Regions from separate parts of the Homo sapiens genome. Here region 1 is linked to region 2. Evidence: fine-mapped expression QTL. Tissue or cell type: whole blood. Region 2 holds a variant in brackets; the other region holds the start of a gene. All regions are shown on one strand. Distances are between the middles of the regions.

Evidence for each region.
Region 1: OSBPL11 starts here. The variant in region 2 is fine-mapped to the expression of OSBPL11 in whole blood (TOPMed, PIP above 0.99).

What each region holds. Positions count from the first base shown.
Region 1 is chr3:125,587,799-125,604,269 of GRCh38, forward strand. It overlaps OSBPL11 (oxysterol binding protein like 11), which reads right to left and starts at 7,699. Exons shown (of 13, transcript NM_022776.5): 1 at 6,839-7,699. The coding sequence starts at 7,002. RefSeq lists enhancers at 6,227-6,286, 7,247-7,306 and a silencer at 7,407-7,816.
Region 2 is chr3:125,549,776-125,566,246 of GRCh38, forward strand. It overlaps OSBPL11 (oxysterol binding protein like 11), which reads right to left. Exons shown (of 13, transcript NM_022776.5): 7 at 13,923-14,068; 8 at 10,604-10,744; 9 at 2,406-2,904. Among named protein-coding and RNA genes, the nearest start is that of OSBPL11, 37 kb to the right of the region's middle. The variant A/G (reference allele first, on the strand shown) is at 8,248.

The DNA of each region.
Region 1 (16,471 bases), 38 kb after region 2:
CAGGGTGGCACACACCTGTAATCCCAGCTACTCAGGACACTGAGATGGGAGGATTGCTTGAGCCCAGGAAGTGGAGGCTGCAGGGAGCTGCAATCGTGCCATTGCACTCCAGCCTGGGAAACAGAGCAAGACTCTGTCTCAGGCCAGGCACAGTGGCTCATGCCTATAATCCCAGCACTTTGGGAGGCTGAGGTGGGTGGATCACTTGAGGTCAGGAGTTCAAAACCAGCCTAGCCAACATGGTAAAACCCTATCTCTACTAAAAATACAAAAATTAGCTGGGCGTGGTGGTGCATGCCTGTAGTCCCAGCTACTTGGGAGGCTGAGGCAGGAGAATTGCTTGAAACTGGGAGGCGGAGGTTTCACTGAGCCAAGATCCTGCCACTGTACTCCAGGCTGGGCGTCAGAGTAAGACCCTGTCTCAAAAAAAAAAAAAAAAAAAAAGAGAAGTTCAGTGCTACTGATAAAGTAAGATATGACAAAGACTGAGAAGACTCATTAGACTTAAAACCCAGAGATAACAGTTTAATGGAATGATGAGGGCAGTCAGCTGGAAGTAACATCAGAGGTTGACGATAATGTCAAGAGGTTCTCCAGCTTGTAGACAACTGAGCTATGGGATTTCTCAGGCTCCACAGTCATATGAGCCAATTCCTCATAATCTCTCTCTATATATATCTACCTATTGGTTCTATTTTCCTGGAAAAGCCAAATAGCGATACCTTAAGGTATTTAACTACAGGCAGGAATCCAAGTTGTAGTCAGTAAATATGAGGTACCAGGCAAGTCACATGTCAAAATCCATACTTTCAACTAGGCAAAAAGTATCCTCCCAAAAGGCTTAGCACTTTGGTCCATTCTCTGGATAAGAAATAGCATGAAGCGGGGAGTGGCTTGCTTAGCTGAGGAAAAGGCTAATGACATTAAGAGATATTCCTCGCAACAGCTAGTGTGTAGCCTGGGATATAATGTTTATTTGCTGAATGAATTAAGCAATGGGAAGAAAGAAACAGAATTTTTCTATGAAGCCATGAGGCAATTCTCAGTAACCTGCCCACCTCCTCCCCAAAAAATTCAACTCGCAGACTGTATACTCAAAATCGCAAACAAAATAAAGTCTAACTGTATTTTAATCTATGACAAAAAGTATAAAGTCAAGAGAGGGGTCCTCCCTCCTGCCAAGAGTCTTAAAAATGTTAGCACTCTTTGGCCCTAGAATTTCACTTTTAGGTATCCCATCTATGACAAATGATTAGAAATGTAGACAAAGCCGGGTGCGGTGGCTCACGCCTGTAATCCCAGTACTTTAAGAGGCCTAGGCAGGCAGATCGCCTGAGGTCAGGAGTTCGAAATCAGCCTGGCCAACATGGTGGAACCCCGTCTCTACCAAAAATATAAGAATTAGCCGGGTGGCACCTGCCTGTACCCAGCTACTCGGGAGACTGAGGCACAAGAATCGCTTGAACCCAGGAGGCAGAGGTTGTGGTGAGCCAAGATTGCACCATTGTGCTCTAGCCTGGGCAACAAGAGTGAAACTCCATCTCAAAAAAAAAAAAAAAAAACAAAACAGAAAAGATATGTAGTGCAAAAATGTAAGGAAACTAAGAAATCACAGCACATTATTAATAAACCAACTCTTGCTCCTCAAGACTTGGTATATTTTTAACTAGATTTTGGAATAATATTTTATAGTTTCCAGTTACATGCCTACAATTATCTTTCTCTTGTTTTTACCAGCATCTATAGCAGATGTCAGATACAGAAAACAAAAACTAGAGTGTAGAAATATGTATCAATTTTCCTTTAACCCCTGCAGAGGAAAAAAAAAAAAAAAGCAGACATTTATGACTTTTTCTTCAAATCAACTCAGAAGAAGAGGTAAAACCTCTAAGACCATGAACATTCATTTATATTTAGGCCAATCTCATTTTCCCATCCGCGAACAGGCACTTTTCCTTATAATAGTATTGACAGTGGAAGAAACCACAAAATTATTGTGGTCTGACCACAAAAATTATTTCTATACTACACATTTGCAGACTTTTACACATTTACTGAAAAGTATAGCTGTTTGCTAATGAGGAAAATAGATTTATCTGTTAATATGATTAGCCAGTGAGGAGCTCAAAATTTTAAAAAAAAGCAGGCCATCAAACACCCTGGTTTGTCTTTCAGTTCCTCTTTTGAATAGTTCTCTTCTGCCCATTTTAATAAGCAGGTGGCATATTTGCAGATTTGTGAATTTCTCTACAAGCTGACATGAAGAATACAAAAATAATGAAAACATGCATATTTTATAAAGTGTGAATATTCACTATGAAAAAGGAAGGAAAGACCCAGAACTGGGAAATCTATCTTCTCTGTAAATGGTAAAGAAAGCTCACATCATATGAATATAAATTACTCTGGAAACAAGAAAATACAAGGCTAATCTAATAAATTAAGTTCTTAAGTTTAATTTTTCAAAAGGGCCAGGCACGGTGGCTCACGCCTGTAATCCTAGTACTTCAGGAGGCCGAAGTGGGTGGATCACTTGAGGTCAGGAGTTTGAGACCAGCCTGGCCAACATGGTGAAACCTCATCTCTACTAAAAATACAAAAATCAGCCGGGTGTGGTGGCAAGTGCCTGTGGTCCCAGCTACTTGGGAAGCTGAGGCAGGAGAATCGCTTGGACTTGAACCTGGGAGGCAGAGGTTGCAGTGAGCTAAGATCTGCCACCGCACTCCAGCCTGCACAAGAGGACCAGACTCTGTCTCAAAAAAAAAATTTTTTTTTTCAAAAGGTCATCATGAGATTGTTTTGTAAATGCCACTGATGCCCTTCCTTTTCCTGATTATTTTGATGATCCTCCTAAAATAAGCCTTAGAATTCATTCTTTCGTTGTTTTGGGTGTGCACATTAATTTGGCATTAATAAAAGAGTGCTTCAGACATAGTAGAGACTCAAAAATATTTGCTACATAAGTTAGAACATGAGTAAACCATAAAACCAACCATGTACCAAACTAGTTATTATCAATAATTATTCATTCCTTTTAGAGAGTTTATCTACTTTTAATACCTCTATGTAAATATCTATCTAGAAATAAAAGTTCTCCCACTTACTAGCTATGTAACCTTAGCTACATGCAATATATAACTTCATGTACTATATTGCCTAAGTCTATATTGTCATTTAGACTTAGGTTTTCTTCAACTGCAAAACAGGAATAATAATGCTGTATCTTCCTCCAGAGTTGGGAGGATTAAATGTGATAACAGATGTGAAAACATTCTGGATAATGTAAAGACAATTATCTACATTTCCAATACTCCATATCTCTGAGGACTGGCTAGATAAGACACTTAAACATTCTGGCAACTTTAGCTGGACATACCTAAAACCAGATACATAATTTGACTCCCCAAGTCCGTTTTCCCCTCTAGTCTTTACAATCTTGAGTCTATTATATTAACTGCCTAGGCATTTTCTGGCATAAATCCCAATAATCCCCACCTGCTGGTATTCTCACACCCTTGTGTGGGACTTGTTTCTGAAGAACAGTGAAAAGTGATGTGAATTCACCTCAGTGCTTAGGTTACAAAAGACTGTTAACTTCTCTCCAGGTAGCACTCTCTAGTCCTCTTACCTCCTCATTCTCAAGAAACAAGCTGCCAAGTTGTAAGATGCTCTGTGAAGAAGCCCATGTGGCCAGTGAACAAAGGAGGTCTCTGGCCATCAGTTCATGAGGAACTGAGTTTTTTGTCCAATGGGCCAAAAGGAACTGAATTGCACCAAGAGTCTCATGAATCAGCTAGGAAATGAATCCTTCCCAGTTCAGTCTTAAGAAAGACTCAGAGCCAGAAGACCCAGCTAAGCTGCACTGAGATTCCTGACCCAAAGACACTATGAAATAATAAATGCTGCTAATATATTAAATTTGGGGGTAATTTGTAATGCAGTAGTAGATACACTATCTCACACTGTATTTCAAAATAAATTCCAGATAGATTAAAAAGTTAAATATGAGCCTGGGCAACATCGCAAGATCCTGCCTCTAGAAAAAAATTTTAAAATTAGCTGGGCATGGTGGTGTACACCTGTAGTCCCAGCTATTCCAGAAGCTGAATAGGAGGATCACTTGAGCCTAGCAGTTCAAGGCTGCAGTGAGCTATGATGGAGACACCACACTCAACCCTGGGAGACAGAGAGAGACCTTGTCTCAAAAAAAAAAGTTAAATTGTAAAACTACCAAATTATTTTAAAACTTCATGAAAACAACTATTTATTTAACTATTTTTGAGACAGGGTCTTGCTCTGTCACCCAGGCTTGAGTGCAGTGGCACAATCACAGCTCACTGGAGCCTAGAACTCAAGCAATCCTTCCACCTCAGCCTCCTGAGTAGGCATGCCACCATGCCTGGCTAATTTTTTAATTTTTTGTAGAGATGGGGTCTCTCTATGTTGCCCAGGCTAGTCTCAAACTGCTGGGCTCAAGTAATGCTCCCACCTCAGCGCCCCAAAGTGCTAAGGATCAACACTTTGGGTGAGCTACAGTGCCAGCCAAAACCAAGTACTTATAAAAGTTACTTTTTATAATTAGAAATGGATGGAAAAGAGGAATAAGAGGTCTGACTTAAAAGTTTTCTGTGTGTCAAAAAAAATGAAATTAAATCTGAGGACTAGTGAAATATTTGCAGAAAGTATAGCAAAGAATTTATACAAAATTAAAATATATTGCATGTCATCACATGTTTATTAAATAAAGAACTAATATAAATTTCTCTGGAATTATAGTCAAGAAATCAGTAAAAGATAGCATTTCCAGAGAAGGAAACCGAGTGGCTGGGAAAGTATGTAAGGGAAATGTTTCATTGTATATACTCATCCCTTTACCTATTGAAAAGAAGAAAAATCAACAAAATATTTTTAAAGGAATATTGGTATTTAATGTTGACATTTTAATAAGAGATATCAAGCATATTAAAAAGAAAAATATTAAGACCTAACAGGAAATGTATAAAAAACACATATGTAGATGTTTCACAAAAGAAAAAAAAATGATCATAAAGAAAAATGAACTAAAAATGCATCAGAAACCTAAACATAAGCACTAAAACAAAACTCCTAGACAAACACATAAGTGTAAATCTTTGTCATCTTAAACTTCACAATGTTTTTTTAGATGTGACACAAAACTATAACAAGAGAAGAAAAAACTCATTAGACTTCATGAAAATTAAAAACCATTGTGCTGCAAACAATATCATCAAGAAAGTTGTAAACCAAAAATAACATTCGAAGGCACCTCACAACCAACTTAATAGACTCCCGGCTCTCTCCAGACCCAAATGTGAATGCCAGGGCCGCGGCGGCGCCCCACCCACAGCCCCATAGCAGGTCAGGACGAAGCGCCACGGACAGGGGACCCGCGGCCCCTGCCACAGGTCACACACATACAAAAAAATCATGCTGATTCCAAAAGCGGGCCTAGACCTCTCAAACTAACTGAATATATCTTCTTATCCTACAGTCACTTACCAATAAAAAGTTATCTTCTGGCCAGGCGCGGTGGCTCAAGCCTGTAATCCCGGCACTTTGGGAAGCAGAGGAGGGCTGATCACTTGAGGTCAGGAGTTCGAGACCAGCCTGGCCAACATGGTGAAACCCCATCTCTACTAAAAATACAAAAATTAGCCAGGTGTGGTGGCGCACGCCTGTAATCCCAGCTACTCGGGAGGCTGAGACACGAGAATCGCTTGAACCCAGGAGGTGGAGGTGGTAGTGAGCCGAGATCGCGCCACCACACTCCAGCCTGGGTGACAGAGCCAGACTCTGCCTCAAAAAAAAAAAAAAAATTATAATCTTCTATACTTCACTTCTATATGTTAATATAGTCATGCATATTTCATACATATGAATATTATTCATGATAAATGTATATCCCTCACAAAATCTTGGCTTTAATCCCTTCCAAGTTTCACAAAAATTTCACAAGCACAAATAAGCACAAAGGCTAAAAAGGACTACAGTTAGGCACATAGGAGTCAATCAAAACTTAAGAATTCATCCCTTTAGTTCCAATACGATGGGATGTGCTGGTTTGTTTCATTCATTCTTAAGGTTCTGGATAGTTCTTTCTCCCTACACTTCATATATGAAAAAACAAAAACAAAACTTGTTGCCTCTCCAGGACTCTCCTCCTGTTCCTTAAGTTGTTCATTCATATTAGTGAAAATTAACAAATATAGACTTTCTCATCAACACAGAGAGCATTGAAGTGGCCTGAGCAACGCAAACTGAACATCTCCAGGCTCAGGTTTAGTTTATCAGAGGCATTAGGATCTCTACCTTTGTCCTTGCATTCCAATTACTTATGTACATTCCCCTTTCCAAGTCACAAATACCTTCAGGGCAAGAATCTTTTCTGATTCTGGAGAAGCTCTGGACAAGTAAGTTTTGAGCACCAGTATTTGCTACCCTCTCGAGAAAGCTGAGTTAAACAGTTCCTGCCCTCGCAGTCTATCAGAGAAAGCTGGCTTGTAAATAAATTGCAACATAGGCAAAAGCAGAAGTGAGTACAGAATTAAATCTGAGGAAGCATTAACTCTCTGACTGTAGAGGAAGTTCAGGGATACATTTCTGTGTTCCTCAAAAGGCCTTCCATAAATACCTGTTGAATGAACAAATGAATGGATTAAATCTTTTAGGCGAGGTCCCAGATCCAAACGAGATGTATCAGTAGCTTCTGGAAGCCAGTGAAAAAACTTTTATCTTTCAACAATTGCGGGATGCAGCCTCCAGGGCATATTCACCCCTACCTCCACCTCGGGAAATAATTTTGGAGAAAGGAGCATACCTGTACTGCCAGCCTTTTGCACTGCCACCGCGGCTGCTGCTGCTGCTACTGATTCCACCTCCACAGCTGCTGTTCTTGTTCGGGGTCACCGCTGTGGCCTGGCCCTCCAGCTTTCCTTCGCTCTCCGAGACTTTCATTGTGGACACTGGTTCACCCCCCTGCATCTTAACGCCAAAGTCCACTTGCCCTTCTTGAGCGGGAGAGAACAATTCTGTAGTTCTGTAGGTGACTTTTTTTTTTTAAGATTTGATCTGAATATGATACCGGTTGCTAAATCACACGGCGGCTGGGGCGGGACTGTCAAATGGTCCAGAAAAGGAAGATACACATTCCCACAGAAGTTAAACTTTTGAGAGGGCAGGGGAAGCAACGAGGACAGATATCCTTCACATGTATCTCTCTCCTTTCCGGCAAAAGCAAGGAGGAAAAAGCATCCGGCGAGAAGACTTAAGTGACATACTCAAAAGAGAAGGAGTGTGGGGAGGTCGCAGATTCTGTAGCCAAGACGGCTGGGAAAAGGACGGAGCGCCACGGACAGGGGACCCGCGGCCTAACCTCGGGGCTGACCCGCCGCGCTCCCTCGTCTCCTCCGCAGGTCCTCAGGCAGTGCGTCCAGTCAAGCCCGCTCGGCAGTTCCCGCCGCAGCCCCCGAGATACAGCCAGGGCCGGCGCGCGCAGCCGGGGAGGAGGGTCGGGGAATGAGGCCGCCGGGGGCGGGACGCCGGCTCCCGGGGCCGCCTCTCCCAGGGCCAGAGGCGAGCCACTCGGGACAACTTCCTCTTATGCCCCTGGCCCGGGCCCTCGACTGGGTTCCCAGGAGCCGGTGAGTCTCTCGCGCTATCTCCAGACCCAAGCGCGAATGCCAGGGCCGCGGCCGCCGCCCCACCCACAGCCCCACAGCCCCACAGCCCCACAGCGGGTCAGCCACCCCCCGCCCCCTGCTCCCTTCCCGCCTTCCCTTCCGGAGTAGCGTGAGCTCACTTCCCTCACAGCCGAAGCGTCTGGCGCCATCTTGGGTCAGGGCGGCGGGTCCCTGAAGGAGGCGGAGGCTCTGGGAGCTGGTAGCTGGGCGACTGGCTGATGGGCGAGGGAGGGCGAGGGAGGGCGCCGCAACGGAACGAGGAACCCGGACAGTGAAGGAGGAAGAAACAAAGGAGCCAGCAGCACTAGAGAGTTCCCTTCTGGTGTGTGAGTGCCCGCCTTCCTTTTTTTTTTTTTTTTTTTTGAGACGGAGTCTCGCTCTGTCGCCCAGGCTGGAGTGCAGTGGCGCGATCTCGGCTCACTGCAAGCTCCGCCTCCCGGATTCACGCCATTCTCCTGCCTCAGCCTCCCAAGTAGCTGGGACTACAGGCACCCGCCACTACGCCCGGCTAGTTTTTTGTATTTTTAGTAGAGACGGGGTTTCACCGTTTTAGCCGGGATGGTCTCGATCTCCTGACCTCGTGATCCGCCCGCCTCGGCCTCCCAAAGTGCTGGGATTACAGGCGTGAGCCACCGCGCCCGGCCGAGTGCCCGCCTTCCTAACCACGTCCTAGCCTTCCATTTGAGGGGCCGTTCCAGGCATTTTAGGAAGAAAGCTTACAAAAATAAGAAAGTACAAGAACGAAGCAAACATCTGTACGTTTTAGTTACTTGGGGTGGGGGGGGGGCAAGCATGACATTGGAGTAAAGCCAATCATTATTATAAATTAAAAAGAAGCTGTCATGGAAATTAGAGATCTCAGAACAGAGCTAGGTACTCTTCCAGACCCCAGACAAATCTTTCACCTTGTTTAGGCCTTGGTTTTGGATTTGTAAAACAAGAGTGCATGGGTAGATTTCTAAAGTCTCTCCTAATTGCTAATTTTAGTTTATAATAACATGACTTGAGGCTGGGCACAGTGGCTCACGCCTGTAATCCCAGCACTTTGGGAGGCCGAGGTGGGCGGATCACTTGAGGTCAGGAGTTCGAGACCAGCCTGGCCAACATGGTGAAACCCATTCTCAACTAAAAATACAAAAATTAACCGGGCATGGTGGTGCGTGCCCGTAATCCCAGCTACTTAAGAGGCTGAGACAGAAGAATCACTTGAGCCTGGGAGGCGGACGTTGCAGTGAGCCTGAGGAAGGAGAGAGACCCTCTCATATTGTTTTATACTCAGTACCTGTTTTAAGAAAAAAAGAAACAGCAAGGAAGTAAAACCAAAGACAGGCAGCCCAGCGCCAGGCCGGAAACCAGGCCTGGGCCTGCCTGGCCTAAACTCAGTAGTTAAAAATCAACTCATAACTTAGAAACCGATGTTATTCATGGATTCCAGACATTGTGCAGCAGAACATTGTGAAACTCCCTGCCCTGTTCTGTTTCTCTCTGACCACCGGTACATGCAGCCCCTGTCATGTACCGCTTGTTTGCTCAAATCAATCATGACCCTTTCATGTGAAATCTTTAGTGTCGTGAGCCCTTAAAAGGGACAGAAATTGTGCACTTGGGGAGCTCAGATTTTGAGGCAGTAGCTTGCTGATGCTCCCAGCTGGATAAAGCCCTTCCTTCTACAACTCGGTGTCTGAGAGGTTTTGTCTGCGGCTCATCCTACTAAAAGCTGAGATTGCGCCACTGCACTCCAGCCTGGACAACAAGAGCAAGACTCAGTCTCAACGAAAGAAAGAAAAAAACAAAAACCGGCCGGGCATGGTGGCTCACTCCTGTAATCCCAGCACTTGGGGAGGCTGAGGTGGGCAGATCACGAGGTTAGGAGATCGAGACCATCCTGGCTAACACGGTGAAACCCCATCTCTACTAAAAATACAAAAAATTAGCCGGGTGTGGTGGCGGGCGCCTGTGGTCCCAGTTACTCGGGAGGCTGAGGCAGGAGAATGGCATGAACCTGGGAGGCGGAGCTTGCAGTGAGCCGAGATTATGCCACTGCAGTCCAGCCCAGGCAACAGAGCAAGACTCTGTCTCAAAAAAAAAAAAGTAAATAAATAAACCTACCGTACAACCCAGCAATCCCACTACTGAGTATCTATCTAAAGGGAAAGAAATCAACATATCAAAAGGATACCTGCTCTCACATGTTTACTGAAGGACTATCACAATAGCATAAATATGGAACCAGCCTGTGTCCATGAACAGATGAATGGGTAAAGAATTTGTGGTATGTAGGCCAGGCACGGTGGTTCACGCCTGTAATCCCAGCACTTTGGGCAGCTGAGGCTGGTGGATCACCTGAGGTCAGGAGTTCGAGACCAGCCTGGCCAACAGGGCGAAACCCCATCTCTATTAAAAATACAAAAATTAGCTGGGCATGGTGGCGCACACCTGTAATCCCAGCTACTCTGGAGGCTGAGGCGGGAGAATTGCTTGAACCTGGGAGGCGGAGGTTGCAGTAAGCTGAGATCGTACCACTCCAGCCTGGGTGACAGAGTGAGACTCCATCTCAAAAAAAAAAAAAAAACAAAGACAAATAATGGAAAGCCAGGTGTGGTCATGCACACCTGTAGTCCCAGCTACTTGGGAAGCTGAGATGGGGGGAATCACTTATGCCCAGGAGTTTGAGGGTAGCCTGGGCAACATAGAAGACCTGTCTCTTTAAATAAATACATAAATATAAAAGTGGAAAAAAGCTTGTGGGATAAAAATATAAAAAACATGATTCTAAGTGAAAGATGCAAGACGCAAAAATGTCACATACTGTATGCTTCCATTTATGTGAAATGTCCAGAATAGGCAAATCCATCGAGATAGAAAGTAGATGAGTGGTTGCTAGGGATAGGAGAAAGGAGGAATGGGAAATGACTGCTAATGAGTATGGGGTTTTCTGGGGGTGGGGGTAATAAAAATGTTCTAAAATTCGATAATAGTGATGGTTGTACAATCTTGTAAGTATATGAAAACTCGATTGTATACTTTAAATGGGTGAATTTATGGTGGATGAATTATATTGTGATAATGCTATTTTTTAAAAAACAAATTCTCTAGCTGCATGGAGAATTAATTTTAGTGGGAGAAAAAGAGGAAGCGGGGCGACTAGGTAGGAGGATATTATAGGGAATGAGGGCAGAGATCATAGCGGCTTGGACTAGAGTGGTGGCAGTGGGGATAGAGAGAAGTAAATGGATCCAAGCTGTGTCTGGGATGGGGCTACAGTACTGCAAATGGACTGGATTTGCAATAGTGAAACTACCTTTGCAAAATTATAACTAAGGAAATTATGACAGTGAAAGAAATCAGACCTGACTCCATCTTGCTTCTAGCCTTTAAGCTGTCCTTGTTCATTCCTGGACACAGGCCAAACTAACTTTAGGAAGGAATTCAGTTCATGGTTTTACTCTGAAACAAAATTGATAATCGCCCTTTCCCGAAAAGACCCCTCTTTTAGCCTGGGGACCAGTCTGCCTTTGCAGGACTAACAAATTAGCTATAAGATTAGAAATTACTGGCCAGGTGTGGTGGCTCACTTCTGTAATCCCAGCACTTTGGGAGGCTGAGGCGGGCGGGTCACCTGAGGTCGCGAGTTCAAGACCAGCCTGACCAACATGGTGAAACCCTGTCTCTACTAAAAATACAAAATTATCCAGGTGTGGTGGCTCATGCCTGTAATCCCAGCTACTCGGGAGGCTGAGGCAGGAGAATCGCTTGGACCCGGGAGAGGCCAAGGAGGGCGGATCATTTGAGCTCAGGAGTTTGAGACCACACTGGGCAACTGGCAAAACTCGTCTCTAGTAAAAAAACAAAAATGAGCTGAGTGTGGTGGCACATGCCTGCAGTCCCAGCTACTTGGGAGGCTGAGGTGGGAGGACTGCTTGAGCCCGGGAGGTTGAGGCTGCAGTGAACTGAGATCACACCAGTGTATTTCAGTCTGGATGACAGAACAAGACTCTGTCTCAAAAAAAAAAAAAAAAATACAGTCTAGAGTACTCAGGTTTGAGTGTCAGCACATTTGGTGTAAGAAACTCAGCAAGATAAACTAAATTATTATCAGAAGGTTATAATGCTTGTGGAGTCATGGCCATGGGAGTTGGTAGGATAGATGTTTTGTTTTGCTTTGTTTTAAAGCCAAAACTTTTTACCAAAATGTTTTACAATAGGATCTGAGTTTGACTGTTCCATTCAGCATCCAAAGAGAGAGGAGGACATATTGTTTGAATAAGGAAGGTAAAGAAATGTACTTTTTTGAAAGCCATCAAAGAAGGATGTGTACTTCATCTCTGTGCCTTCCCTACCAGTCTAGCTGGGTAAGAGATGAGGGTGCCCTGCCCATGGAGAGAAGCTGCGTATGCATAGTGGTCAAGATCATGGTCTCTTCTATCAGACTGACACGCAGATTCCACTCCCTGTGACCTTAGGCAAGTTACCTAACCTCTTTGTGCCTGTTTCATCACCTATAAAATAGGAGTAACTGTGTTACTCCCCAAATTTCTACAATGAAGGCCTAACTTCTATGCAATGGTATTTGGAGATAGGGCCTTTGGGAGACACTTACGTTTTGATGAGGTCCTAATGATTGGATTAGTGCCCTTGTAAGAAGAGACACCAGAAAGCTAGCATGTACCATGCCCCAGCCCTCACCACCCCTGCCATGTGAGGGCACTTGGAGAAGACAGCTACCTGCAACCTAGGAAAAGAGCCGCCATCAGAAACTGACCATGCTGGTATCTTGACCTTGGACTATCAGCCGCCAGAACTGTGAAAAAATAAATTGCTGTTGTTTAAGCCACCTAGTCTATGGTATTTTGCTATGGCAGCCAAGCCAGTCTCTCTCTTTGAGGGGTTGTCAGCATTAAATGAAACGACTCATGTCATTTAAGGCACTTAGACTCTGGTCTGACGCAGGATGAGCTAAGTGTTCAGCAACTGTTAGCCATTGTTTAGAAGGGTAGGGCTACCTGCTAAGTAAAACGAATGTTGGTGTTTGGTGAGGGCACCCTTCTGCTAGGGACATCTCTGAAGACACATCAAACAACATATTTCTGAAGACATTCAACATATTTCTGTGGGAGAATGCCAGCTTTGTCTCCCAAATGCAATGGAGTTTTCAAGTTAGGAATTCTAATCAAAAGAGACCCATCAGAGTATGTACAATAAATGTAGAATTCTAAGAACATTACCTGAAATCACCCAGTTTGTGGGTGTCAGTGTGAAAATGTAGATACCTAAGGCCATGTCTGCTTCAGTGTCATCTCCTCCTAGAGACCTTCCCTGACCACTCTATACAGAGTAGCAGTTCCTACCCATTACACTCTATCCCTTTACTGTGCTTTAGTTTTCTTCATAGCACTTGACATTTTTTTTTTTTTTTTTTTTTTTTTTTTCTGAGAGGGAGTCTCCTCTGTTGCCCAGGCTGGAGTGTGATGGCATGATCTTGCCTCACTGCAACCTCTGCCTCCTGGGTTCAAGCCATTCTCCTGCCTCAGCCTCCCAAGTAGCTGGGATTACAGGCACCCGCCACCATGCCCGGCTAATTTTTGTATTTTTAGTAGAGGCGAGGTTTTGCCATGCTGGCCAGGCTGGTCTCGAACTCCTGACCTCAGGTGATCCACCCGCCTTGGCTTCCCAAAGGGCTGGGATTACAGGCCTGAGCCACTGCGCCTGGCCAACATTATATGCTTTGTTATGCATTGTCTGTCTCCTTACTAGAATGTAAGCTCTGTGAAGAAAGACTTGGTTCTTTTTTTTCCCCACTACAGTGTCCCCAATACTTGACCATTGCTTGACACATTTGTTGAATGAGTGGATGAATTTATTACAGTGGTTAAGAACATGAACTTTGGCACAAGCCTTCAAATCCTGGCTCTGCCACTTAGTGCACGTGATCCTGGGGAGGTTACTTGCCTTGGTAAGCCTCAGTTTTTTCATCTGTAAAATGGAAAAATAGGATGAAATAAACGTGTAGAAGGCCAGGCATGATGGCTCACACCTGTAATCCCAGCACTTTGGGAGGCCAAGGCAGGTAATTGTTTGAGCCTAGAAATTCAAGATCAGACTTGACAACATGGTGAAACCCCATCTCTACAAAATAATACAAAAATTATGGGGCCAGGAGTGGTGGCTCACACCTGTAATCCCAGCACTTTGAGAGGCCGAGAAGGGAGGATCACTTGAAGTCAGGAGTTTGAGACCAGCCTGGCCAACATGGTGAAACTCCATCTCTACTACAAATACAAAAACTAGCCGGGCATGGTGGTATGCACCTGTAGTCCCAGCTACTCGGGAGGCTGAGGCATGAGAATTGCTTCAACCCAGGAGAAGGAGGTTGCAGTGAGCTGAGATCGCACCACTGCACTCCAGCCTGGGTGACAGAGCGAAACTCCATCTCAAAAAAAAAAAAAAAAATTAGCTGGGTGAGGTGGCATGTGCCTGTAGTCCCAGCTACTAGGTAAGCTGAGGAGGGAGGATTGCTTGAGTCAGAGGTTGCAGTGAGCCAAGACTGTGCCATTGCACTTTAGCTAACCTGGGTGACAGAGCGAGACCCTGTCTCAAAAAAAAAAAAAAAAAAAAAAAAAAAAAAAAAAAAAAGAGTGCCTGATGTCTAGTGCACTAGAACAAATGCTGCCTGTTTTTATTTTCTCTCTCTAACCCTGACATGCAAGAAAGGGAAGTATGATTAGTTTCCTTGAAGCACAAGAACCCGCAGCTGGAATGAATGGGAGGATAGGCCACAGAGAAACTCGGGGCAGGGTAGCAGGGAGCAGGGGTGCGGGAAACAGTGCTAATCCCATGAGAGGAGGGCAACACAGGGAGGAATGCAGCCAGGAAAAAAGTTCCCACTGAGAATAAGGTTGTGAACCCAGAATTTCTTAAAAAAAGAAAACGAGACCGGGCGTTGCGGTTCACACCTGTAATCCCAGCACTTTGGGAGGCCAAGGTGAGTGGATCACCTGAGGTCCAGAGTTCGAGACCAGCCTGACGAACATGGGGAAACCCCCGTCTCTACTAAAAATACAAAATTAGCCAGGCGTGGTGGCGCATGCCTGTAATCCCAGCCACTCAGGAGGCTGGGGCAGAAGAATCGCTTGAACCCAGGAGGCGGAGGTTGCAGTGAGCCAAGATTGCACCATTGCATTTCAGCCTGGGCAACAAGAGCAAAACTCCGTCTCAAAAGAAAAAAAAAAAAAAAAAGAAAGAAAAGGAAGAAAGACATTCTGAGAAGACAAAGTGTTCACATTGATAATAGGTTTTACTACTTTGCTGAAACAGAGTTTCAATTAATCAAGAGATCCTCTACCTCCCACCACACTCGCCTGCAGTTTAGGCAGAAATCCTTTTGTGATTTCCCACTCTGATGGAGTGATTCAGCTAAAGGGCTCCAAGAGAGCAGCATTTCTCTTCAAACACTCCCCTGCCAAGCTCAAAGCTTGTAGTGGGAGTGAAAGAAATAGACACAGTTGGTGTTTTTATTTGAGAGGAGGAATGAAGGATGGGAAAGGAGAAAAAGAGTCTATTTTATTCCGATTTTGATAAAATGAAACTTCCCTCCCATTGTTTGCTTCTCTCCACAACTTTCCCTTGAATCCCTATTGAACTTAAAAGTATTTCACTGGAGCCTTTAAAACTGTATTATAAAATGAGAACGCATTTATTTTAAAGCTATGTGTCCTTTTTGTCCGTTTTTAGACTCATTTGGCTAGTGCAGGTAGTATTTTGCTCACAGTTTCAATAAAATGCACAGATTTAACTGCAGTCACGTGACCTTTCCATCGTCAAGTGGGGAATGCCAGGGGTTGCCATGGGAAAGGAGAGAGAAGGCAACTAATGCTTACTAGCATGAAATGTCAGGGTTATGAATTCCGGGGAGCGCTCATGTAGATCAGCTTTTGAGATGGTATGTGAGTGTATTGTTTCCATGAAATGACTCATTTGACGGAGAACGTTGATTAATGTGAGAGGGCATGTGCCAATATTTCTTTTGAAAAAACTGCATCCCTTTACCAAAAGAAAAAAAAGGCAAACACTAGGGGAGCACTTTTCAATATGTACTCCACACAATATTGTGGGGTATTAGTAGGTGTTACTTGATTTAAAATTTTTCTTGCTGTGATTTCATACATTTGAAAAACACTAATTTTATTTTAAGTGAGACTGGTTCCTTTATTGCAGAATTTCTTGGGGAATTTACTGTGCTAATGTGCATCATGAATCTTCATAAAGGAGATAGAAGGATGTGCCCAGAAAGCCCCTGGCAGGGAAGGAACTGCACCTTGGAAGGCTCTATGCAGCTAATTTTTTTACTTTGTAGAAATGCTTTTTGTGTGTGTTTTTTTGTTTTTTTTTTTTTGAGAGGGAGTCTCGCTGTGTTGCCCAGGCTGGAGTGCAGTGGCACAATCTCGGCTCACTGCAACCTCTGCCTCCTGGATTCAAGCAATTCTCCTGTCCCAGCCTTCTGAGTAGCTACAGGCATGTGCCACCACACCTGGCTAATTTTTATATTTTTTGTATTTTTAGTAGAGATGGGATTTCACCATATTGGTGAAACTGGTCTCGAACTCTTGACCTCAGGTGATCCACCCGCCTCGGCTTCCCAAGTGCTGGGATTACAGGTATGAGCCACCATGCCTAGCTGAGATGGGGTCTTGATATGTTGCCCAGGCTGGTCTCAAACTTCTGGGCTCAAATGATTCTCCTGCCTCAACCTCCCAAAATGCTGTGATTACAGA
Region 2 (16,471 bases):
TGTGCTGGGCTTTTCTTCACTTCTTGAAGTACTTCCTTTCTTGCAGTGTGAGAGGCTACCATTTCCAGATTCTTACTGTTACATGAACTGATAAGATTAACTGTCCTTTGGGAGAGTGTCAAAGAATATGGTTCTAAATGTGTCTATTCCTTAACATTTATGACCTTAGACATGTCTCATCATCTCTAGACTTCAGTTTTTTTTCACTTATAAAATAAGCAAGTTGATCTATGAAGTGCTTAAGGCTAACGTGACGGAGCTTATGATGGAGGGTAGCAAACTTTTTGTTTTTAACTAATAAAATATGAATGATTTCAGCTGGGTGTAGTAGCTCACAACTGTAATCCCAGAACTTTGGGAAGCTGGGGTGGGTGGATCACTTGAGCTCACAAGTTTGAGACCAGCTTGGGCAACATGGCAAAAATCTCATCTTTACAAAAAATACAAAAATTGGTTGGGCATGGTGGCGCACGCCTGTAATCCCAGCTACTGTGGAAGCTGGGGTGGGAGGATGGCCTGAGCCTGGGAGGCAGAGATTGCAGTGAGCCAAGATGGCCCCACTGCACTTCAACCTGGGCGACACAGCTAGACCGTGTCACACACACACACACACACACACACACACACACACAACAAACAAAAAAAAAAAAAGAGAGTACTTTCTAATGTTATAAAAGTTGTAATTAACTTGAAATATTATTTGGAAATTGGTAAGACATATTACAACAGAACTTAAAAATGAGGAAAACTGAAAAAGAGGATACTTTCTTCATAACGACTATAACACAATCTCAAAATATTAGATTGGCTTAATGATGCCATGCTTACACTGTAAGATGACATTCAGAGCATAGTGTTCTTTGCATAAGAGTTTTCCTTTAACATAAAAGTGGTATTTTTTTCCTATCATTATATTTTCATTAACTCTTCAATAATTTCTGTGGAGATTTTTGTTTTTGTTTCATATTCTTGGTCAAAAAACTCTGCATTTCCAAAAATAATTTTTTCATAATCTTCTGATGAAGTAGAATTAACTTTTATCAGCATATATTTTTAAATATTCTATGAATAGCACCTAAATATTCTATGAATAGCACCTCTGGCCTCCATCTCCTAAAGTGCTGAGATTACAGGCTAATGCCTGGAGGTGGAGGCCAAAGGATCACTTGAGCCCAGGAGTTCATGACCAGCCTGGGCAACATATTGAGACCCTGTCTCTAAAAATAAAAATTAAAAAAATTAGCCTAGCATGGTGGTGCATGCCTGTAGTCCTAGCTACTTGGGAGGCTGAGGCAGGAGGATGGCTTGAGCCGAGTAGGTCAAGGCTGCAGTTAGTTATGACCATGCCACTGCACTTCAGCCTGGGCAACAGAGCAAGACCCTGTTTCTAAAAAAAAAAAAAAAAAAAAATTAAATTAAATTAAATTAAAAAAAAGGATGGAAAATCTATTTCATAGAATATTATGCAGTCATTAAAATATGTTTTATCAATGACATGATAAAATGAATATATTTAATTTAAAAAGCAGGACTCAAAACTATATATATTATTAATTCTAATTTTATAAGGCTAAAAGTATGAACATACACACACAGAAAAAGTATAAAATATTAAATTTATATATATATGGATGCAGGCATTACAGAAGCTTTTATTTTCTGCTTTGTACTTTTCTAGTTTTCCAAATATTTGATAAGAAATATTTAAAATCGCCAGGCACGGTGGCTCATGCCTGTAATCCCATCACTTTGGGAGGCCGAGGTGGGTGGATCATCAGAGGTCAGGAGTTTGAGACCAGCCTAACCAACATGGTGAAACCCCCCATCTCTACTAACAATATAAAAATTAGCTGGGTGTGGTGGCATGGTGGCAGGCGCCATAATCCCAGCTACTCGTGAGTCTGAGGCAGGAGAATCGCTTGAACCTGGGAGGCGGAGTTTGCAGTGAGCGGAGATAGCACCATTGCACTCCAGCCTGGATGACAGAGCGAGACTCCATCTCAAAAAAAAGAAAAGAAAACAAACGAAAAGAAATATTTAAAATCAGAAAAAAATAATTTAAAAAGAGAATTTACATTAGTTCATAGATATACTCCTCCCATCCCCACAAGAAGCATTCTGGAACACTCTAGAAATTGGAGCGAAAAAGTAACATAATATTTTAAACTTAGAGTTAATATTTATCTGGGGTTCCTAAATTTAAGATTGTAGTTTGATATTAAAAATTATAAAACAGGCACTTGACCTTCACGTGCCTGCTTGGGTTTCTCCCAAGCGAACTTTCCTTTCTTTCCTGTTCTAAAGCCTTTTAAAGTAAACTTTCATTCCTGCTTGGAAAAAAAAATACATATATATATGTGTGTGTGTATATATATATATATATATAAAATAATTTTTCTACTTACCTTCTCCAACCATTGTCACGCCTATTGACATGCCTAAGAACTTGCTCTTAGTCCAGACATGCGCATTTACACACATCTTCCTCTCTGTACATTCTGCATAAAATCCTGAGACTGGAGGATGATGAGAAACCTGCTCAGCAACAAATCTGACTGTGTAACAGTCTGATCCCACCTGGGTCAAAGACTCCCCCGATAAAGGAGCATGATTTGTGACTCCCTGGGTGGAAGAACTGCTAAAAACACTGGATGCTACCTCGCTTTTTGGCATCTTCCAGGAACAGTGAAATGTTTCTCCAATGATAGGATTGTATGGTTTTTTAGCAATGGCTCCCTTACGGCCTTCATGAAATGAGGTAAGGTAGTACTCAACAAAGCGAATCATTCTGTCCTCAGCTGTGGCTCCATTAGTGATGGCTATAAATAGGTCTGGATGAGACATAAAGTCTGCATACATTTCCAGCAAGGAACGCTTCTCTAGGATAAATGTAGGAAGCACCACCTAAAACAACAATCAATGAAAGAGGGGAAATTTAATCCATGTGTAGCATATCTGTAGACAACTATTCTCTCTCTGAAAACATTTCATTCTAGATGGGTATTAAAAACAAAGTCACAAAGAAAAAGTATTCAGTCACATTAAAAAATAAGCATTCTTGGCCAGGCGCAGTGGCTCATGCCTATAATCACAGCACTTTGGGAGGCCAAGTTGGGAGGATTGTTTCAGCACAGGAGTTCGAAACCAGCTGAGGCAACATAGTGGAACCGTGTCTCTACAAAAGTTACAAAAATTAGCTGGGCATGGTGCCTTGTGCCTGTGGTCCCAGCTGCTCAGGAGGCTGAGGTGGGAGGATCACCTGGGAGGTCAAGGCTACAATGAGCCATGACTGCGCCACTGCACTTGTACCTGAGCAACAGAGTGAGACCCTGTCTTAACAACAACAACAAAAAAGCATTCTTAAAAGGACAGGCAAATCTGCCCAAGACTAAACATAAATTCAAGAGAGTCAGAAGAAACTTCAAAAAAATCCTCAAACTTCTAGACTGGATAAAAGTATCACCAGGGAAATGGTGTTAAAACTCAAAGTAAATGTTAGCCATGCCTTTGCTCCTTTCCTATGTTAAAATTAAATTGTAGATGAATGACCAAGACATGAGAAAAGTCAATAAATGTCATTCCCTGAGAACAGACTAAAGAGATCACAGACCGAAGCAAAAACTGCAACATATATTTAATCTTAAGCACAAGAGAACTATTTCCAATAAGAGAAATTTTTATACTTAAAACCAGGTAAGTGTAAGAAAGATAAATATTTTACTTAAAGCAGAGTTGGGAGAGGCACTGCAAAATGGTTTAAACGTCTGAGAAAGCAAAATCTGGCAATATTTTTCAAGAGCCCTAAGATGTTCTTACCCATTTAGCCTAGTACTTACATTCCAAGAATCTAGCCTTAGGAAATAAATAATTGAATGAAGGAAAAGCAATGTGAAAAAATAATTAGAACAACCTGCATTTTAAACTACGGTTCTAGCTAACTGAAGTAGGGAACTTTCATTTAATTGACTATTATAGTCATTTAAAAAGACGGTTTTGAAGATGATACAAATAATACAAAAGACAGTGGATGTTGCAGGTTCAGCTGGTGAATTGAACACATGCATCTTAATTTCACTTTCTGTCGAAATTCCACTGAAATTAAATTAACTTCATATAAAGACAAACCCAGAGATACCAGGAAAGTAGACAAAACACAACAAAATTTTGAGAGTTCCTAACTAGAAAGCTGAAACTTAGGCAGTAGGTTACAATATGCACAGATTCCTAAAAAGGCTCAGGAGCTGATCGCACTAGGTACCTCTGGATCTGGGGATTCACAGAAATGATAAAATAAAAATAACTGAGTAAAATCTGTATGGAAAGCAATTAGATGCCTAACTCAAACCCCCAACTCCACACTGTTAGTAACTACCCTCTTGGACCTCAAAGTCTAGAGGTTTAGCCTCTGGATAAACAAGGTGGTCTATTCTCTAGACTGGAGAATAGCAAGGAATTCTAAGAGAGTGGATACCAAGTGATACATAACAAGGGCATTTAATAACTCCATATAAACTAAACGTTAGCTATTAACACCCTCTCTCATGCAGCCTTCTTCTCCTTTTTAACTCCTTTTGGAGTCACCAAGTATGAGATGAAAAAATTTTTCTTCTGGGAAATTTGACTAAACCTAGAAGAAAAACCTAATGATACTGACACCAAGTCTCCCAACAAATGGCCCATCCAGATTATGGGACAATGAAAAACATAGGCGCCACCTACGTGTTAAAGCTTAAAATCAGATTTTAGTTTCCCTAAACTTAATTGTGAGCAGAAGATCTGATTTCTGAGAAAACCTCTAACTAGGAATATAAAGAACAAAATAAAGAAACAGATTTGGAGGAAACAGAAACCTCAAAGGAGGGGAAAAAACAAAAATAAAAAATAATATCTTCAGAGAATTAAGAAGATATTATATACATACAAGAATGCTTTTTAAAAAAATCAGAAAATTTAAAAACATGACAATAATTAAAAGTCAAAAGAAGAGTTAAAAGATAAAAGGCGAGGAAATCTCCCATAACACAGAAGACAGACAAAGAGAGAAAAAGAAAAGTATGAGAGAACAATAAAAGACCAGACCAGGAAGTTCAATGGCCATATAATAAGGATTTCAGAGAAAACAAACAAACAAACAAACAAAATAGAAGAAAGAAAAATCATTGTGATGGTTAATATTGAGTGTCAACTTGATTGGATTGAAGGATACAAAGTACTGTTCTTGGGTGCGTCTGAGGGTGTTGCCAAAGGGGATTAACATTTGAGTCAGTGGATTGGGAGAGGCAGACCTACCCTCAATCTGTGTGGGCACCATCTAATCAGCTGCTAGGATAAAAGCTAGCAGGGGAATATGGAAGGACTAGACTTGCTGAGTCTTCTGGCCTACATCTTTCTCCCCTGCTGGATGCTTCCTGCCCTTGAACATCGGACTCCAAGTTCTTCGCTTTTGGACTCTTGGACCTTCAACCACAGACTGAAAGCTGCACTGCTGGCTTCCCTACTTTTGAGGTTTGGGGACTCGGACTGGATTCCCTGCTCCTCAGCTTGCAGATGGCCTATTATGAGACCTTACCTTGTGACTGTATGAGTCAATATTCCTTAATAAACTCCCCTTTATATATACATCTATCCTCTTATTTCTGTCCTTCTAGGAACCCTAATACAATCATCAAAGAAATAATTCAAGAAAATTTCAGAGAACTCAAAAACATGAGTTGTCACACTGAAAAGGCCCACCAAGTGCCCAGATACAATGGATAAAAGAAACCTACATCAATGTCACAATACCAAGACATGATAAAGAGAAGATTCTAAACAATTTTGGAGAGAAGAACATACAAAACAAGTCACAAACAAAAGATCAGGAATCAGAATGACTTCAGTCTTTTCATTAGAACCCTGCAGCACGGAGATATTATCTTTTTTTTTTTGAGATGGAGTCTCGCTCTGTCACCCAGGCTGGAGTGCAGTGGCGTCATCTCAGCTCACTGCAACCTCCACCTCCCAGGTTCAAGTGATTCCTGTGCCTCAGCCTCCTGAATGGCTGGGATTACAGGCATGTGCCACCATGCCTGGCTAATTTTTGTACTTTTAGTAGAGGGGATTTTGCCATGTTGGCCAGGCTGGTCTCAAACTCCTGGCCTCAAGTGATCTGCCTGCTTTGGCCTCCCAAAGTGCTGGGATTACAGGCGTGAGCCACTGCACCTGGCCACAAGTAACAAATTCTATCTAAACCAGCAATGAAACACGAGGGCAACACAGACATTTCAGACACACATTTTCACATTCGCTTCTTACAAATCTTTCTGAGAAATTAATGGAGGATATATTCCAACAAAATGAGAGGCAACCAAGAAAGAAGAAACGGATACAGTAAACGGATTAGCCAAAGAGAATGCTAAAGGAAATACTGGTCCAGATTAGAGTGATGTGACTCAAGAGACAGACATACTGAAGACTGTCATCCACATGCTTCATGCTGCCATTGTATCATCTTTTCAAACCTCAGGATAAAATAGCCTAGTGAAACTGATCCCAAGTGTATCTGTATTTGGCTTGTGTTGACTATCTGCTGGTGAAGTTCTTAGTCTCCTCTCCATGTTCTGCTGTCTGGATTGGCTGAAGATGCTCATTTCCCCGAAAGAAGCCTTCTGACTTCAATCTATTCCTCAGAGTTGGAGGTAGGTCACAGTTTGCTTTGAAACTGAAAATACTGAGCAGCTCACTCCCCCAGCCCACATTCCTCCTGTAGCTGACTCACACCAAATGCTCTGGGATGTATATTTTACAGGACTCACAACTTTGCCTTATAATTTCACAAGAAAGGGCTCTTCTAAACTTTCTCAATAACTTATAAGAAGCTAAAGCCAGAGACTCAAATGTTTAACTTGTCTTTTTCTGGGAGCTGCTTTCTACAAATGGCAACACAGTCCTTTCCTTATGCTAAGCTTATGTTAGCTATTCATTTTTTCCTAAACATCATTATGGAGTACAAAAAAGCAGTAAAACTATAGCAAAAAGTAGAGGGATAATTAACACACAAGTCAAGTAAATTGTTTTATGGAGGAAAAAGTAGAGGACTATAAATTAGAGGGGAACTCAGAGATTCCAAGTTCAGGCAGTGTTCTACAACTTAATGTCAGAGGTAGATACATGGGTATTCATTTTATCTTTTTTCTTTGAATGTTTATATGTATACCATTCAGTCTTCTGTGTGTTTAACACATTTCATACACACAAAAATTAACTGAAAAAAGGAAGTAAAACAAAATTCCATATAAACTATGACAATGTGAAGAAAGATAAAAGTGAGAGCTCTGTTATGTTAGGGTAGTAAAATGATAGATTTTCTTTAGTTTTCTAAAATTTTGTGTTTATATAATTTCATAATATTATTTAAAAAGAAACAAAATGAACAGTAGGAAAATGCATATTACTTATTCACAACATGAAGGCTAGGACCATGGTTATCTTATTTGTTCCTGTCCCAAGACCTAGCACAGTGTCTGGAATATAACAGGGGCCCAGTAAATATTTGTTAATTAAGTGTTATTGTTAGATAAGAGGTAGCTGTGACTGCAGTTTAGTCACCAGGCTCTTTATTTTTATTTATTTGTTTATTTTTTTTGAGACAGAATCTAGCTCTGTCGCCCAGGCTAGAGTGCAGTGGCGCAACCTCAGCTTACTGTAACCTCTGCCTCCTGGGTTCAAGCGGTTCTCCTGCCTCAACCTCCTGAGCAGCTGAGATTACAGGCGTGCACCACCATGCTCGGCTAATTTGTTTTTAGTAGAGACGGGGTTTCACCATGTTGGCCAGGCTGGTCTCCAACTCCTGACTTCAAGTGATCCACCCGCCTCAGCTTCCCAAAGTGTTGGAATTATAGGTGTGAGCCATGGCACCCAGCCACCAGGCTCTTTAATATTGCCTGAAAAGTATCATTCCATTAAATGTTGTATAGATGTTCTTAATTTGTGGTTGGTTAATGTTAATGTAATATATGTGTAACACATACAACTTTCTTTTTTTTTTTTTTTTTTTTTTTTGAGACAGGGTCTCGCTCCGTTGACCAGGCTGGCAGTGGCACAATCTTGGCTCACTGCAACCTCCACTTCCCAGGTTCAAGCAATTCTTGTATCTCAGCCACATGGTAGCTGGGACTGCAGTCGTGCACCACCATGCCCAGCTAATTTTTGTATTTTTTGGTACAGACAGGGTTTCGCCATGTTGGCTAGGCTGGTCTCGAACTCTTG[A/G]GCTCATGTAATCCACCTGCCTTGGCCTCCTAAAGTGCTGCGATTACAGGCATGAGCCACCACACCCAGCCACATACAACTTTTTAATCAACAAGGTACAAATGTAGAGAAAGTATAGTATATGCACTTATTCATGCCATGAGAGAACTTCTACCATGTGGATTACTATCACAGCACACTTTTTTCAAATGCTCTTATGCCTCATAAACCTCAATGCTGCTCTTGTGCCTTATAAATGCAAATCTACTCAGGGACTGCAAACACCATGCTAACTAATACCAAACAACCCCTTCAGAAGACTATTCATTTTTAACCAATTTCACAACTATGAGGTCTTTTCTGAACCATTAATATGAAAATATTTCTAGAACAGAAATGATTCCCAGTTGAAATACTGAAGCTATATAAATAATGAAAGCTTTATGGGTTTCTTTATTAATTCCTAAAATGTCTGCTTCTTATGCTTTCTATTTAAGTTATATTTTCAGATGAACAGTTCGTTGGAAACAATGTTTTAAATCTACCTTCAATGGCATCAAAAAAATCTCCAATTGACATCTACCTCCTAAAGTCAATTTTGAAATTCCATACTAATGTAAAATTGTTTCATCAGTAATTCAAAGTAAATAATCCTACAGTAATAAATATTTGACATATATAGGTTTTGAACTTGATTGGCTTTTTAAATTAATGTCATGGATTAATTGTTAAGACAAATTAAGGCACACTAGTTAAACTGGGAACAGAGAAAACTGGCCTAAAATTAAAAACTACAGATTAGTGCTTCTCAAACTTTAATGTATATATGAATCGTCAGGGATCTTATTAAAATGCAGATTCTGGTCCACTAAGTCTGGGACTGGGGCCTGAGATTCTGCATTCCTAACAAGTTTCCAGGTGATGGTGATGCTACTGGTCTTCAGATCACACTTAAAGAAGCAAAGCTTTTGGCCAGGAATCTGCAAACTGTAGTCTTTGGGTTAAATCTGGCCTCCTGTTTTAGTAAATGAAGTTTTGTTGGAATACAGCCATGCCCAATCCAGTATATTGTCTATGGCTGTTTTTATACTACAAAGGCAGAGTTGAATAGCTACAACAGAGACCTATGTCCACATAGCTGCAAATATTTACTATCTGGCCCTTTACAGAAAAAGTCTGCAGACTCCTGTTATAGATAATACCCCAAATGTATGATCTGCATGTGGGAAGTAAGTGGAAGTGTCAATGCTTTTCATAGTTCTGTAGGATTACGTAATTTTCTCTACATTTTCCAGTATAGTATACCAATGGACTCTTTAATTTTGTTCTGAAACTCAAAGACAATTGGTATTACTTGCCAGACAACTTCCTGCTGCACAAGAAAGCCAGAAAGCCTTTTTTTTTAGTGATGGAGTCTCGTTCTGTTGCCCAGACTGGAGCGCAGTGGCACAATCTCAGCTCACTGCAACCTCCACCACCCAGGATCAAGCGATCCTCCCACCTCAGCTTCCCAAGTAGCTGGACTACAGGCCACCATGCCCGGCTAATTTTTGTATTTTTAGTAGAGACGGGGTTTCACCACATTGGCCAGGCTGGTCCCAAACTCCTGACCTCAAGTGATCCGCCCACCTCAGCCATCTCCTGAGACAGGGTTTTGCCACGTTGGCCAGGCTGGTCTTGAACTCCTGACCTAAAGTGATCTGCCCACCTCAGCCTCCTGAGTTGGGGTTTCACCACGTTGGTCTTGAACTTCTGACCTCAATTGATCCACCTGTCTCAGCCTCCTGAGACGGGTTTCACCTCGGCCTCCCGAGGAGAGTGGATCATTTGAGATCAGGAGTTCAAGGCCAGCTTGATTATAGGCATGAGCCACTGTGCCTGGCCAAGAAAGCCATTTTTTATGAAAATAAAAAATACTGATCAGGAGACTAAAAAAAAAAAATCATAAAAAATAAAAATCACAAAAAATAAAAAGACCGGCCAGGTGCAATGGCTCACGCCTGTAATCCCAGCTCTTTGGGAGGCCGAGGTGGGAGGATCACGAGGTCAGGAGCTCGAGACCCGCCTGGCCAACATGGTGAAACCCCATCTCTACCAAAAATACAAAAAATTAGCTGGGCATGGTGGTGGGCACCTGTAATCCCAGCTACCCAGGAGGCTGAGGCAAGAGAATTGCCTGAACCCAGGAAGTGGAGGTTGCAGTGAGCCGAGATCGCACCATTGCACTCCAGCCTGGGCAACAAGAGCAAAACTCCATCTCAAAAAAAATTAAAATTAAAATTTAAAAAGTAAATAAATAAAAAGTCCTGACATAAACATGAACAATTACTGGTACAGCCCTTAACAATCTCCATAGCCAGCTTATGCCATTACTTACTCTTGTTAAATCCATGCCCAGCTTAAGCTGTGACAAGAGATGTAGGATGACACTACGTTGTTCTTCTACAGCTCCCAGGTCATCCTCTTTGTGGTCACATGTATCCTCTATCTCATCATCTGCATTTATTTCTTCAGGCTCCTTGATGGAAAACAAAGCAAAAGTCTAGTATTTTAACTACCTATTCATATCCATTGAGAACAAAACAATAAATATCAGACTTGAAGACATTTGTATTTGACCTAAGTGAATCTGAGTATGGGCAAAAATCTTTCAGAAATACAACTATTTGTCCATGGTATAAATTTCCTTCAGAGAGCCCCATTATTGCTGATGTTGAACATATTGCAGTTTTGCCATATATATCACATAAGAACTATTTTTCTTTTTTGGGGGGAAAATAGAATTTTTCAAAAAGAGTGAAGAATGTCTCCTCCAGCCTCCAGAGTCGCTGGGATTACAGGCATGCACCACTGCATCCAGCTCATTTTTGTATTTTTAGTAGAGATGGAGTTTCACCATGTTGGCCAGGCTGGTCTCAAGCTCCTGACCTCGAGCGATCCACCCGCTTTGGCCTCTCAAAGTGCTGGGATTACAGGTGCCCACCACCATGCCCGGTCCCTTAACTGCTTTTTTCTTTTTGAAACAGGGTCTTGCTCTGTTGCCTGGGCTGGAGTGCAGTGGTGTTAGCTCACTACAACCTCCACCTCCTGGGTTCAAGCGATTCTCCTGCCTCACCCTCCCAAGTAGCTGGGACTACAGGCATACACCACCACACCTGGCTAATTTTTGTGTTTTTAGTAGAGATGAGGTTTAGCCATGTTGGCCAGGCTGGTCTCAAATTCCTGACCTCAAGTGATCCACTTGCCTTGGCCTCCCAAAGTGCTGGGATTATAGGCATGAGCCACCACACCCGGCCCCTTAATTGTTTTTTATACACATTTATAATCACATAACCTCCTCTCTTGTAAAATTTACATGTTTATAATTATACTAAACCTTTTTTCTCAAAAGACTCTTTCTTCCTAATTTTCCTTTGTGAATGACAATACAATTTTATCTAACCACTGAGAGTCAAAAACTTGGGACTTGACTTGATCCAAACCTATATCCAGTCAGTCACAAATCCAATTGATTTTTCATTTGAAATGCACATAATCTATTCATTTGCCTTCATGTCTACTTCCATATCCTTCTATTCACATTTTATTCCAAGTCGTATCATGTACCAATCTTCTTAAACATAGTACATTCTTACCCATGATCATGACGCTATTGTCATTAAGACTAAACCCTTCTGCATTATTTTTATGTTATTTGGAGGCACAATTTACACTGCATTCTATGGAGCAGTGCTCCTGGAAGCTTCATTCCACAGAGTACAACATGAATAGTGCCATTCAGAGTTGTAAAATCCAAAAATACTGTGATCATTTCCCATAAGCCAGGTGTTCTACTAAATTCATTTTATCCTCATAAGGATCTTACAAGGTAGTATATTATCCCTACCTTACCGATGAGGAAGTTGAAGCTAAGAGTGGTTAATTAATTGGTTCACATGTCAGTGAATGGCATATCCTGGGTTCAAAATTACCAGGCAAGCTTTCTCTTCAATAAACACACATGCCTTAGGATCCTTGCTAGTGTTAGTCCTTCATCTTGAGATTCCCATTCTCTTCCTCCTCCCTTCAAATCCTGTCTCCTTTCAAAGCCCAATTCCAATCCCACTTTCTCCCCAAAGCATTTCTCATGTACCCGACTCAATATGTCTTCTTCCTTTCTCTGAATGCCCCTATCCCAATAGCCTACATGGTATCAATTAAGAAAAAAATATATTGCTTTATATTATCATCTCATTTTAGTGTATATGTTGTGACTCCAAGCAGATTATAAGTCTCTTCAGTGAAAAACCTGTATCTTCTAATTTTTGCTTCTCCTCTAATTCTTAGCATTGTACTTGCCATATACTAAGCTTAATAAATACTTACTAACTGCTGTTTCTACAAATAAGCCAGTCAAACAGCTACAGAGAAATAAGCATTTTATACATTATTGTTTTTTCTTCTCCCCTGCCAACCCTTGCCTGCAATGCCTGTCTTATCAAGCCAAAACTTTTGCCAACTTTGGAAGTCCCTGTGCCATATATTTCTTTAAAGAAGTAATTTACGAATATATAAAGTACCATAAACTATGCATTACTCTTGACTCAGTAATGCTACTTGGTAATATAACTTAAAGAGATAACCTAAGAAAAAAAATAGGAGAAGGCCGGGTGCGGTAGCTCACACCTGTAATCCCAGCATTTTGGGAGGCTGAGGTGGGTAGATCACCTGAGGTCCAGAGTTCGAGACCAGCCTGACCAACATGGAGAAACCCCTTCTCTACTAAAAATACAAAATTAGCTGGGCATGGTGGCGCATGCCTGTAATCCCAGCTACTAGGGAGGTTGAGGCAGGAGAATCACTGGAACCCCGGAGGCGGAGGTTGCGGTGAGCTGAGATTGTGCCATTGCACTCCAGCCTGGGCAATAAGAGCGAAACTCCATCTCAAAAAAAAAGGAGAAAAAGTTGGAAACAAGATAATAAAGTGTTATTTATAATTAAAAAAAAAACCCTCCAAACAATCTAGATATTCAACAATAGGGACATTAACTCAATAGACTATTTCAAGCTTTAATTATACAGACCAGTACAACATAGGAAAATGCTTATCAAGTAAAAATAGCTTAAAATAACAGATGTGAACACAAAAGGCAAAAATATCAATATGATTTGTTACAGTGGTAGATTATGAATAGAATAAAACACTCTTCAGCTTCTAAGAAATGTGAAATGAATAATAGTTTATAAAAATATAAACCCTAAGATTATGTGCTATTTTAAGTAGGGTAATACTTGAAACAACTGGCTTGGTAAAGTGCTTACTATGAAAAAGACTCAACTTTTAAGATTATAAACTTAATAATAAATAATGTTAAGATAATAGGTTAAGAAACATAAGAGACAAACATTGTGCAAATCTCATTAGATAAGTTATTTTCTAGAAAAAGAAAAACATAAATTTCAATTTTTAAAATATATTTTTATCAAGCAAAAGTAAACTAAAAGTTAAAAGGGCATATAATTTAACCTGGAAAATTCAACAAGTTTAATATAAGAGACCTCTTCAAAAACAATGCAGTTTAAAATGTTTTAGAATCTTCAAGAGTGTTGCTCAGGTGTTAAGTTGATGTGCATGAGCTGACAATGAAAAGAAAACTGACCCTTTTTCAGTGATACCTAATTTTTCACATCAAAATCATATTTTTATATTACCTTACCCTCGCTAATAGTCCAGATTCTGCAACAGGCTGCTCTTCTGGGACTGCCACCGGCTTACTCTGATCAGTTGCAAAGGGCTGGTCAGCTCCATTTTTATAGTGGTTTGATAAAGATATCTTTGGTTCTAACCACTCGATTGTCGTTCCTGATGGAGTAAGAGAAAACTTTCGCTGAAACTTGCTCATAATCTAGAAAGTTCGGCAGATGTGGATTTTAACAATTTTGTTTTGAGCCTACAAGCCTAAAAGCAATTAAACCTGTTAAGAGACCCTGCAAGACAGCCACTTATATCTCATTAGCATGAGCACCATGATTGGGTATTTTACAACAGAGCAACTTGCAACTTGATATCAGATACTATTTAAAAGAAATCAACCCTGAATAGGACTGAATTTACTTCTTGGACAAGTCTGTGAATCACGAAGTATATTCCCAACCTAACAGTTGATTTGTTGTCTTTGTCCCTCTACTGATTAAAAAATATGCAATTAGGCTTTAGAGAGGCACAGCTACAGGAGGAGTCTGGGACTGTGAAACAGTAAGATTTGTTTCAATTTGGGATCGAGTCTTACTCTCAGCAACAATTGTCTAACCAATCAAAATAATCCCCCGGATCTAATTTAAGAATTGCAAATACATGTCCTTTTTCGAAATCATTTTTTAAAAAGCCCCATACAACTTAAACTGAAAGACTCTTCTACTGAATAAATAATAACTGACCCAGTGAAGACAGTGGTCACATTTGGAGACCTGTCATCTTCTCGGTTAATGATTCAAATGTCTCTTGTTACCCTCGACTAGTTTAACAAAGTGGATTCTATGCCTAATCAATAATGGAAAATGTTCCATTTGATTTCAGTTGCTGATCTAGGTTTCACAGAAGCTTGGTTATAGAGTGCTATAATAAGGGATGCTCAGACTACTACAGCAGAAATGTAGGAGTAGGAAATGTATTATCCTTTTTTTTTTTTTTTGAGACAGAGTCTTGCTCTATTGCCCATGCTGGAGTGCAGTGGTGCAATCTCAGCTCACTGCAACCTCCACCTCCCAGGTTCAAGTGATTATCCTGCCTCAGCCTCCCGGGTAGCTGGGACTACAGGTGCTCACCACCATGCCTGGCTAATTTTTGTATTTTTGGTAGAGACGGAGTTTCACCATGTTGGCCAGGCTGGTCTTGAACTCCTGACCTCAGGTGATCTGCCTGACTCCGCATCCCAAAGTGCTGGGATTACAGGCGTGAGCCACCATGCCCGGCCACAAATGAAATTTAGTATTTAATTAATCAAGTATTTATTGAGCATCTAATATCTAGTGCTGTGTTACTTGACATACTTTTAAAAAATTAAGTAAGCCTGGGCAACACAGACAGACTCCATCTCTACAAAAACTAAAAGGAATTAGCCAGCCATGGTGGCATGTGCCTGTAGTCCTAGCTACTTGGGGGGCTAAAGCAGGAGAATAGCATGAGCCTGGGAGGTTGAGCTGCAGTGAGCCATGATGGTGCCACTGCACTCCCGCCTGGGCAACAGAGTGAGAAGAAATATAAAATAAAAAATATATAATATATTGTCTTAAAAATAAGCAAATAATTAAGTAGTATAAACTGGAAACAAACTGTTTCATTTGACTGAGAATTATGATTACCAACACTAGAATTAACCCAAATTTCATAGCTAAGCCTAACTCATCCAATGTTCAACACAGGGATATAGTTAAGTAAACCAAAATACACTTGTCTCCTCAAAGGAATATAAATACTAAGCAAATTTATAAATAGCATATGATTGGAAAACATTTTTGATGTAAAGTGAAAAAAGATACAAACGTATATTTTCCAATAACAACAGGGCAAAAGAAACAAAAACTAAGAAGAAAAAAGAGAAAACCTGGGATGGGGAGTATACTAATATATCAACAGTGGTGGTTTCTGGTTGGTAGGACAATGCATATTTTTTGTTTCTTCTTTTGACTCTACAGTATTTTCTATAATGAGTATGTTGCTTTGTAAGAAGAGAAAATTTATATTGAACTACTTACAATTCCTACAAGTCATGAATTCACGTTCACAACTCACAATTTAGACTCTTCTATCACTTTGGAATGCCCTTTCCTCTACCTCTCACTCCTAAACTATGAATGCCCTTTCCTCTACCTCTCACTCCTAAACTATGAATGCCCTTTCCTCTACCTCTCACTCCTAAACTAATCAGTCTTTGCAGCTTCTCTGTGCCTTTCTCAGAACTCTTTCTACCAGTCATTCAGCTATTCTCCCACAGTTTGTTCCTTTTGGTAGTAGCACCCTACACGTTATTATTATTATTTTTGAGATGGAGTCTCACTCTTGTCACCCAGGCTGGAGCGCAGTGGCACGATCTGGGCTCACTGCACCCTCCGCCTCCTGGGTTCAAGCGATTCTCCTGCCTCAGCTTCCTGAGTAGCTGGGATTACAGGCGCCTGCCACCATGCCCAGCTAATTTTTGTACTTTTAGTAGAGATGGGGTTTCACCATGTTGGCCAGGCTGGTCTCAAACTCCTGACCTTAGGTGAC